Regions from separate parts of the Homo sapiens genome. Here region 2 is linked to region 1. Evidence: fine-mapped expression QTL. A gene starts in region 1. The other region holds a variant in brackets. All regions are shown on one strand. Distances are between the middles of the regions.

Evidence for each region. PIP is the estimated chance that this variant, and not a neighbour inherited with it, causes the effect. A credible set is the group of variants that fine-mapping cannot tell apart.
Region 2: its variant is the best candidate, but not a certain one, in a credible set for the expression of LINC00997 in visceral fat (GTEx, PIP 0.54).

What each region holds. Positions count from the first base shown.
Region 1 is chr7:32,755,190-32,760,575 of GRCh38, forward strand. LINC00997 (long intergenic non-protein coding RNA 997) reads left to right here and starts at 3,097. Exons shown (of 1, transcript NR_036501.1): 1 at 3,097-5,386.
Region 2 is chr7:32,497,239-32,502,624 of GRCh38, forward strand. All of the region lies in intron 1 of AVL9 (AVL9 cell migration associated), which reads left to right. Among named protein-coding and RNA genes, the nearest start is that of AVL9, 4.4 kb to the left of the region's middle. The variant T/C (reference allele first, on the strand shown) is at 3,135.

The DNA.
Region 1 (5,386 bases):
TCTTAAAAAGATTGTGCTTACTATTTTTATCTGATAAAGAGGATCACTCTATAAATATATTATTTGTCTCAAATTATGACTCACCTCTGGATAAAGATGGAAGCATTTTACTGCATTAATTCCAAGAGGATTTCAGTAAGCCTGTCATTCATTATCGTCCCCAGTCCTTCCAAAAATGAAGGTGCTTCAATATTGGTCTCGAAGTAGGAATAAAAGTCCCTTTAAAAAAAAAAAAAAAAAAAGAAGGCACATGTTGTCAATGTAATTAAAACTTTAAAATATTTATTTTTATCACTTCTTTAGAACATTTTTTTCTGAAAAAAAAGGTCAATAATAAGACTTCCTAATTACGCCTCGCTATTTTGCATTCTTGGACTTTAAAAAGCACGTATTTTCAGGTGATCACTGTACTATTCTTTCAAGTTTTCTATAGGCTTTCAAACTAAAGAGTTGGAGGGATGGTCGAATGATTTAAAGAGTTTCTCTAATAATGTCTTAAAATGTGTAGACAGTATATGTTCAATTTTCCCAAATCTGGTTTTATCCCCCACATTTGAGATGCTTGAAGGTTGACATCTGATTAATTCTGTCATAAACAGGGATGCCTTCATGCCTCTGTACAACTTTGCATATAGAAAATTACTTCTTTTTTTCCCATGCTCTTAGGAAATAAAATATAATGACCATAAGCATCATGAGCAAGGAATCCAGTGCTTCTAGCTTAATTCATAGCTCCATCTAATCCTCTGTGCTAAGTGAAAGCTCAATGTTGATTGACTATTGTTGCTCACAAATACTATGTACTAAAAAGCAGATTATTTTAGTGTCTTACACTTCAGCATATAAAATAAAGGCTTCATTAGGATAGTAAAAGTGCTGTTGAGTTAAAATTCATGGATTAACAATAGCATGTTATGTCTTATTTCCCCATCAATTTCTTGCTTTCGCTCCTAAAATCTAAAAGCAAAAAAGGGCCACATTGTTTAAAATGCATTCTCCCTAAAAAATGCTATATGCTATAATCATATCTGCCTCATCCAACACGAGTAACTACTAAATTAAACGTCTGTTTTAGCTGATGTCTGAAAGGCCATTACCTCATAGTTGATTGGCAAAATATGAGTTCATAAAGAATTTTCCTTTCTGCTTAGGAGGATAAAGCAATACAATAATTAAAGGATATCTAATATGCAAAAGTCTATATTTAGGGAAATATTAAATATTCTCTTTAAAATGTTCAAATGTCATACATATGTTAATGTATCCAATGCTTTGAAACTTTATAGGGGCAATATAGGGATGAAAATTAAAAAGCAGTGACGGAGGGGCCTGGCATAGGCAAAATCATAGAGATAGAAAATAGAGCTGAGTGTGATTAGTGTTTAGTGGGTGGAGTTTCTGTTTGGGATAGCAAAAAGTTCTGGATGTGGACAGTGGTAATAGTTGCAAGACAACACGAATGTACTTAATGTCACTGAATTGTACGCTTAAATGATAACCATTGACATTTTTCTATTACAAACTTAAATCTAAATTTCACCATAATTTAAACAAAAAGCAATGGCTAGAGTGAGGAGAGTCAGCTTCAATGCTTCAGTAGGCCCCCGACCAGCTGGGAGCAGATCTGGAAGATGGACGGTTGTGGTGTCTTCTAAATGTAAAATTGCACAATTTTGGTATTCGCTATCCCATTTACTCCTCACAATAATTATGTGAGATGTGTATGGCAGAAAACTCCATTTTAAAGATTAAGTATCGAAAAACAGAAAAATATTTAAAAATTATATCAAAAGTCATCTCTTAAAAGAGATTATCTTGAAATCAAAAGAGAACCAAATAATAATCATCATCAGTAAAAGACCCAGTAAAACATGGGACCTCCCAACTGTAGCCAAAGAAAAAGCAATTTCTGATAACATCTCATTTCATTCCCCTTTATCACTTCTTCAGTGCTTTCTTTGTCCTCCTTCCTCAGCTACTATAATTCATCTTCATTATCTTAAAAAGAAGTCTGCATTAGGAAAGGGTGAGAGATAATGAAGTAACAGAAAAATAATCTCAAACACTTTACTATTTAAATAATAAACCTGGGTTATAGCTTATGAAACAGTGCAATGAAGTATCATATTACAATAAGAACAAGTTTCAAAACCAACATTAAAATAAGCGATAAGTAAGAAAGCCATAAAAAAGGAAACAATAAATTGTTATAATATTGTTTTTATAATTTGCTTACTAACTCGTATGTTTTTAGGCATTTATAATGCAGTATGGCACACACCTGAAATTCCTTAACTCAGTGGTTTTTAAACTTAATTGTTGCCGGGTGCGTTGGCTCATGCCTGTAATCCCAGCACTTTGGGAGCCCGAGGCGGGCAGATCACTTGAGGTCAGGAGTTTGAGACCAGCCTGGCCAACATGGTGAAACCCTGTCTCTACTAAAAATACAAAAATTAGCCAGCCATGGTAGTGCATGTCTGTAATCCTGGCTGCTAGGGAGGCTGAGGCAGAAGAATTGCTTGAACCCAGCAGGCGGAGGTTGCAGTGAGCAGAGATCATGCCACTGCACTCCAGCCTGGGCGACAGAGTAAGACTCTGTCTCAAAAAAAAAAAACCAACTTAATTGTATATCTAAAATTCTTGTGGCTTGTTTCACCCTTCCTTCCATCCCAGGCCTCTAAATCAGAACAGAGGCAGGTTAGTGTTTGTTTTTTAAGTTTCAAGTGATTCTAATGTACCAGCCTTGGGAAATACCTCCGTAACTGTTGAAAAGGGTTCAGAATATAATTTTAAATAAAATTACTTTAGATCAAAACAGACTTACAATAAGTATAATATCACATAAAGGATCAACTTTCAAGCGCCAAAGAATACAGGTGTGTACTTGAAGACCTTTTAGTAGTGAAACTCAGCAGCTGTAGGCAGTGAAGAAAGGAGCATATGTGATAAACAAAATTAGCTGTGGTCAACAATTATGCTATAGCTAACTTATGTAGTCAGTACTTTCCAGTGAAGTTGAAAATAAAGCAAAGTTCCATGTATTAACCCTGTTTTCCACTAACCCTTCTTTACATGTAGGACATATGCCAGGGTACCAAAAACTGCAGGAATATTCCCTAGCATTGCAGCCTCAGTTCTAATACCAAAATCTCCCTGCAGACTAAATGTCTAGAGCAGCACTGTATCAATAGAACATAGGGGCAGATCTCATACCTTCCAAGGGTAGAAATCGCTGAGCACAGGTAAAAATAAAATATTCCAGAGGGAAATATTATTTTACAAATTTTTATAAACACTTTTGTAAAATAATGTACACAGCCTTGCACACTGAAAGAGTCAAAGCCATTTAACTCTGTATAACCACTGCAGAATCTTTATCTTCTTTTTTACCTGACTTCCAATTGGCGGGTGTTACTAAAACTTTATCACCAAAGTTATTTCACTAGCTGAGCGTGGTGGCTCATGCCTGTAATCCCAACACTTTGGGAGGCCAAGGCAGGTGGATCATTTGAGGCCAGGAGTTTGACACCAACCTGGCCAACACGGTGAAACCTCATCTCCACTAAAAATACAACAAATTGGCTGGGTGTGGTGGCGCATACCTGTAATCCCAGCTACTCAGAAGGCTGAGGCACGAGAATCACTTGAGCCTGGGAGGCATAGGTTGCAATGAGTCAAGATCGCGCCACTGCACTCCAGCCTGGGAGACAGAGCAAGACTGTCTCAAAAAAAAAAAAAAAAGTTATTTCACTAGCAACATATAATTACCATAAAACAAAGGAGGGTTTTAAATGAACTACACATGCAAAATACACTAGAAAAGCTAGATATTTTTAAAAACGTGGTGAATTATTTGGTAAAGCCAAAATATTTTAATTCATAAGTTACTATTCCCCCAATGCATCTATTTTGTAAATGCTGTTTCACATATGAGGTTTGTAAAAAAGCAAAATATATGTATAAAATGGCGTACATAAAGATGTTCTACAAATATAGCCAGAAGTTATTGTTTTACTGTATGCAAAGAGTGATGGCAATTTTTAATTCAAATGTTTTTAAATATTTCGAACTGAAACTAAATCTTACCAATGTAAAATTGCCACAAAGACGGCTGGAAAAGAGAAAAGTTATTAAAAGCTGCTTTATTATAAAATACCATTAAAACAAGTATTTCAAATGTATTATTTTACATGTCTAGAAAAGATAGCACAGAAAGCAAGATGGCCAGCTAATCCTGTCTCTATGAGCATAGGAAAAAATCCAGGACACAAAGTAAATTCTGAACAGAGCTTACCTCTCTGCAGCAGGGCTTGACAAGCAAAGGGAGAGACTTGAGAGGGTTTTTTTACTTCAGTTAATTGGTAGGAGTGATGGAATTATGGAATATTGTGACCTTTTTTGTTTTTTTTTCTTTTTAGTATTCTATTCCTTTATATGAAATTTTTTAAAGAAGTAAATATATACAGTATGCTTCAGCTCGTTCTAACCAAGAGGTGCCACTCTAGATCAGTTTCTCTAGCATTCATCAGAAGACGATTAAATGCAGGCAATCACTTCCTCAGCAGCACATCTAAAAGCCCCATTGTGCAACTCAACCCTTGATGAATTGCAAGCTCTTTGCAAGCGCCCAGACTTAGGAACTACTAGATGGCCTAGGAGACTTATCTGGAGGCACCTGTGCCAGCACCCCATGTATACGTAAGACTTCACCAGGGAGCTGGGAGACACTGCTCTGGGTATGGAGCTTTTACCAGAGCTGCAAACGCAGCCTGTGCCCCTGTTTCGTTGGGGAATTGCTTGTTTTCAAGGGTACCATGGAGCTGGAGAGAGAAAAGTGGGGAATAGAACAAGTTAAAACACCACAGACTTTGCTGTTCTTATAGAGGTTCAGCAGCTTTTCTTGAATTAATGCCCTTTAGATTGTTGTAAACCTTTGGTTAACTTCCAAAGTTTTGAAGAAAATGATTTTGATAATTTTCCAAGTATTTTCATTGTCATCATGGAGGAGTGCATTTCCTTGGCTATTCCAGAAGTCCTACCTCCCTTCTGAGATTTTATAATGGTATTTCTTATGGTTATCCCAAATATACTTGGCAAGTCGTCTTATAAACCACCAATAATAGCCTCTTAAAAATTCAAAAATTACTCCTCTTGGCTAACAAAATAAATGCAAATTAATTTAATAATTGTTGAAGAAATTAAATTTTTTAAAATTAAAAAATTGCAATGTTGAAATTCTCAACCATGCTTATCCAGACCTTTTCCTATACTACTAACTGCCCTGGGCTTATCTTAAATACTTCTCAGAAGATTTACTTGTTTTACACCAGGATAGGCAAAGTATGGCCCACAGTGTATTTTTGGACTGTCTGCAAGCACAGTTGCT
Region 2 (5,386 bases), 260 kb before region 1:
CAGCTACTTGGGAGGCTGAGGCACGAGAATTGCTTGAAGCCGGGAGGCAGAGGTTGCTGTGAGCCGAGATCACGCCATTGCACTCCAGCCTGGGCAACAAGAGCGAAAAAAAAAGTTTTGGAAAGTGTGTGTTACATGCATAAGTCTTAGAATGACTGGTCTAGAATCTGTTCTTTATAACCTGTACATCAGGTGTTTTCAGAGGCTTTAATTAAAGTATGTAAGATTTGCCCCAGGATAGATTAATCAGCTACCTAATTCTCCACTTTAACTATTTTACTTCCAGGTGTAAATTAAAGGTGCATGGCTCATTGAGTTGTGACTCTGACTTAACACGGTTTTAACTTGTGTGAGGGTACTTAGACTGCTCTTCCAAGTATTCAAAATTGCCGTGGGTCATGTTGACCATTAGTTCTTTTTTTTTTTTTTTTTCTTCAGATGGAATCTCACTCTCTCACCCAGGCTGGAGTGCAGTGGAGCTCGGCTCACTACAAGCTCTGCCTCCTGGGTTCACACCATTCTCCTGCCTCAGCCTCCCGAGTAGCTGGGACTACAGGCGCCCGCCACCGCGCCCGGCTAATTTTTTGTATTTTTAGTAGAGACGGGGTTTCACAATGTTAGCCAGGATGGTCTCGATCTCCTTACCTCGTGATCCGCCCGCCTCGGCCTCCCAAAGTGCTGGGATTACAGGCGTGAGCCACCACGCCCAGTCATGACCATTAGTTCTAAATGTGCGCTGAGATTGTGCATAGGGAAGATTCCTATACTTGGTCGTAATTTGTAACTTTTAAATAGAAGTGACTGAAGTAAAACCTTTGTTTTAAAAGTGATGCCTTTCAGCAGTCCGCTTGGTTAAGCATGATAACTTTGTCATTTGACATGGACCTCAAAGTAAAAGCCATCTTCTAATACTGCTGTGTTGAAGACCCAAAACTAGGCTTGTGGAAAATGTTAGTTCATTTTGTTTCTAGCACTTTTTCCACCTTTGAAGTCCTCAGATTTTTTTTTTTTTTTTTTTTTTTTGAGACGGAGTCTTGTTCTGTCACCCAGGCTGGAGTTCAGTGCAGTGGCGCGATCTCCACTCACTGCAACTTTCACCTCCTGGGTTCAAGTGATTCTCCTGCCTCAGCCTCCCAAGTAGCTGGGATTACAGGCATGCACCACCGTACCTGGCTAATTTTTTATATTTTTGGTAGAGACGGGGTTTCACCATGTTGGTCAGGCTGGTCTAGAACTCCTGACCTCAAGTGATCCACCCGCCTTGGCCTCCCAAAGTACTGGGATTACAGGCATCAGGCCAGATGTATTTTAAATGAAAAATTCCTTCATTTGAATTTAAATGAACATCTATTAACTTTATCACTTGATCTTTTTTTTTTTTTCACTTTTATTTGGGTAACTTGTGGAAGTAAATTCTTCTGTAGATAGCGTGTTAGCTTCTAGATGTCATTTTTCTAGTTTACTGATATACTTAACATTTAGAACATTTTAAGTGATTTTTTTGAGTTCTACCATAACATTTAAAGTTGTTTCAAAATATTTACTCATTTCAACTTTTTACTGAATTGTTTAAAATTTAATATTTAACAAGGGATAATAATTAACAAGGGATAATTTAACATTTAACAAGGGATACTAAGTGTGGCCGGGTGCAGTAGCTCATGCCTGTAATCCTAACACTTTGGGAGGCCGAGGCGGGTGGATCACCTGAGGTGAGGAGTTCGAAACCAGCCTGGACAACACGGTGAAACCCCGCCTCTACTAAAAATACAAAATTAGCTGCGCGTGGTGGCACATGCCTGTGATCCCAGCTACTTGGGAGGCTGAGGCAGGAGATTTGCTTGAATCTGGGAGGCGGAGGTTACAGTGAGCGAAGATCTGCCTACTGCACTCCAGCCTGGGCGACAATGAGTCCCTGTCTCAAAACGAAACAAAACAAAAATTTATCTGACATTAGACCCTTTGGCATGAAATAATTTATGGATACCTTCTCTGTAGTAAATTGGCTTGTTATAGATTGTGTATTCCAGAGTTTTGTTTGTTCCAATATATAAATTATACTTGTCGGACTACCAAAATTTTTTGCTAAGTAGCATCAAATATATATCACATTAACTCTGTTTTTTTTTTTCATAAACAGGTTAGAACTTTTTTAACTACTCAAGTTAAAAGGGAATAGGTTATTTTCCAAAGTGATGTCATAAAAAGTTGAAATAATTACTTAATTTTTGGCCACTTTTCTGATAGTTTATTGTTTTGTATACATAGCTAGCAGTTTTAAGTCTTAAGTAAACTGGATTTACCAAACTGTATTTCTAATACAAAAAAGGCAGAATAACAATTTTTTTTTTTAATTATACTTTAAGTTCTGGGATACATGTGCGAAACATTCGGGTTTGTTATATAGGTATACATGTGCCATGGTGGTTTGCTGCATCCATCAACCAGTCATCTAGATTTTAAGCCCCATATGCATTAGGTATTTGTCCTAATGCTTTCCCTCCCCTTGCCTCCCATCCCCCAACAGGCACCAGTCTGTGATGTTCCCCTCCCTGTGTCCATGTGTTCTCATTGTTCAACTCCCACTTATGAGTGAGAACATGTGGTGTTTGGTTTTGTGTTCCTGTGTTAGTTTGCTGAGAATGATGGTTTCCAGCTTCATCCATATCTCTGCAAAGGACATGAACTCATTCTTTTTCATGGCTGCATAGTATTCCATGGTGTGTATGTACCACATTTTCTTTATCCAGTCTATCATTGATGGGCATTTGGGTTGGTTCCAAGTCTTTGCTATTGTGAATAGTGCTGCAATAAACGTGTCTGTGTGTGTCTTTATAGTAGAATGATGTATAATCCTTCGGGTATATACCCAGTAGTGGGGTTGCTGGGTCAAATGGTATTTCTGGTTCTAGATCCTTGAGGAATCACCACACTGTCTTCCACAATGATTGAACTAATTTACACTTCCATCAATAGTGTAAAAGCATTCCTATTTCACATCCTCTCCAGCATCTGTTGTTTCCTGACATTTTAATGATCACCATTCTAACTGGCATGAGATGGTATCTCATGGTTTTGATTTGCATTTCTCTAATGACCAATGATGATGAGCTTTTTTTCATATGTTTATTGGC[T/C]GCACAGATATCTTTTGAGAAGTGTCTGTTCATATCCTTCGCCCACTTTTTGATGGGGTTGTTTTTTTTCTTATAAATTTGTTTAAGTTCCTTGTAGAGTCTGGATATTAGGCCTTTGTCAGATGGGTAGATTGCAAAAATTTTCTCTCATTCCATAGGTTGCCTGTTCACTCTAATGCTAGTTTCTTTGGTTTAATTAGAGCTCTTTAGTTTTTTTTTAATTTAAGCTCTTTAGTTTAATTAGATCCCATTTGTCAATTTTGTCTTTTGTTGCAATTGCTTTTGGTGTTTTAGTTACGAAGTCTTTGCCATGCCTATATCCTGAATGGTATTGCCTAGGTTTTCTTCTGGGGTTTTTATGGTTTTAGGTGTTAGTTTAAGTCTTTAATCCATCCTCTGTTAATTTTTGTATAAGGTGTAAGGAAGGGGTCTAGTTTCAGTTTTCTGCATATGGCTTGCCTGTTTTCCCAGCACCAGTTATTAAATAGGGAATCTTTTCCCCATTGCTTATTTTGTCAGGTTTGTCAAAGAGCAGATGGCTGTAGATGTGTGGTGTTATTTGTGAGACCTCTGTTCTGTCCCGTTGGTCTATATGTCTAAAAAGCAGAAGTATAAAAGAGCTAGAACTAATCTTAACACTAGTTCCACCAGTGAGTAAAGCAACCAGCAGCAGTGAAGAAAATGGCAGATTTTCCTGTTGGTGTGAGTGGACTGGTCACAAGAAAGTCTCCATGGGGTAGCAGAATGTTGCATTGCAAATTTAGAAATGGGTTGATATTAGGGGGATTGTTTATGTTGGAGTGCTACAACTATACTCAAGCCCTGAGTGATTCAGGTTTTGGTGACAGATGACTCACTGACAAGCCTTTTTTGGCAACTGCTATTAATGAAATCCTGTGGTGACAATAATGAAACATTTGGGAGGGTTTGTTTGATTCTTGTTGCAATAAGTAGTTCTTTGGAACAAGAAAGAAGAAAACTGAAGGGTTAGCAGTTAGGGAAGAATAACCTTTTAAGATTCTTTTTAGCTGCTAGTTTTACAGAAACTTTGTTCTGAAACAAGATTGCATTTTCTGGCCCTTCACTGCACTTTTATTTCTTCAACTTTAATATTTTGGTAGATGGTTTTTCCTGATTTTGGCCATGCTTTTTGTATATGCTGAAATTATGAAAATCTCTGACTTAGCAGGGCTGCAGCATTGACAGAACAATGGAATAGTTTTCATTCAGGCTTTGGCATTGTGGCTAAGCGGAGTGGGTGTCAACTTGTGTACTAGAACTTTGAAATATCAGGAAGATTCCTTTGTTCTCTTATGGGTCCTCCCAGCTAGCAAGAATGTGCCTAATTTCTTTCTTTGGCTTAAGCCTTTGATCCCTAGTAAAATACTTATACACCATGAGTAATCATCTACTTCATGTCATTGATATGATTCAGATCCTTTGCTGAATGTAGATTTTTGCTAAAGGGAAGACTGCAGAAGGGCCCTAATCTACTAGGGATGGACAACAGAAAGATGCAGACACATAGGGAGAAGAGCCTACTTACCTACTTAATTTTAAGACTGCTCCTTTTTTATATGGATTAAGAACTCAGGTTCTCCCTAGGATATTTTTAGAGGATATTATCTAAGCTGATATTTTTGGCAGTTTTTAAATCATATTTCAGTATTTTTGAAAATAACATTTATGATAAAAAAAAAATATGTACTGGCCAGGCACAGTGGCTCATGTCTGTAATCCCAGCACTTTGGGAGGCCAAGATGGGAAGATCGCTTGAGCCCAGGAGTTCGAGACCAGCCTGGGCAACATAGGGAGACCTCATCTTTGCCAAAAAGTAAAAAAATTAGCCAGGTTTGGAGGTGCATGCCTGTAGTCCCAGCTACTTGGGAGGCTGGTGTGAGTGCACTGGTCACAAAAAAGTGAAGCAGGAGTATCACTTGAGCCCAGCAGGTCGAAGCTGCAGTGAGCCGAGATGGCACCACTGCACTCCAGCCTGGGTGAGAGAGTAAAACCCTTTCTCAAAAAAAAAAAAAAAAAGAAAGAAAAGGTATCAAACCATAATCATGTTTCATGGCCTACCTTTTTCATGTGAAATATACCATTAATATTTTTCTGTATTAGTAAATAATTGAATTATATTTTAAAATTGCTAAATAGTATTTTGTAGAAATACTTTTATTTAACTGATCTCCTTTTTAGATACTTAGGTGGCATTCTAATTTTTCACTATTTTGAATAGCGCTGCAAAGAAC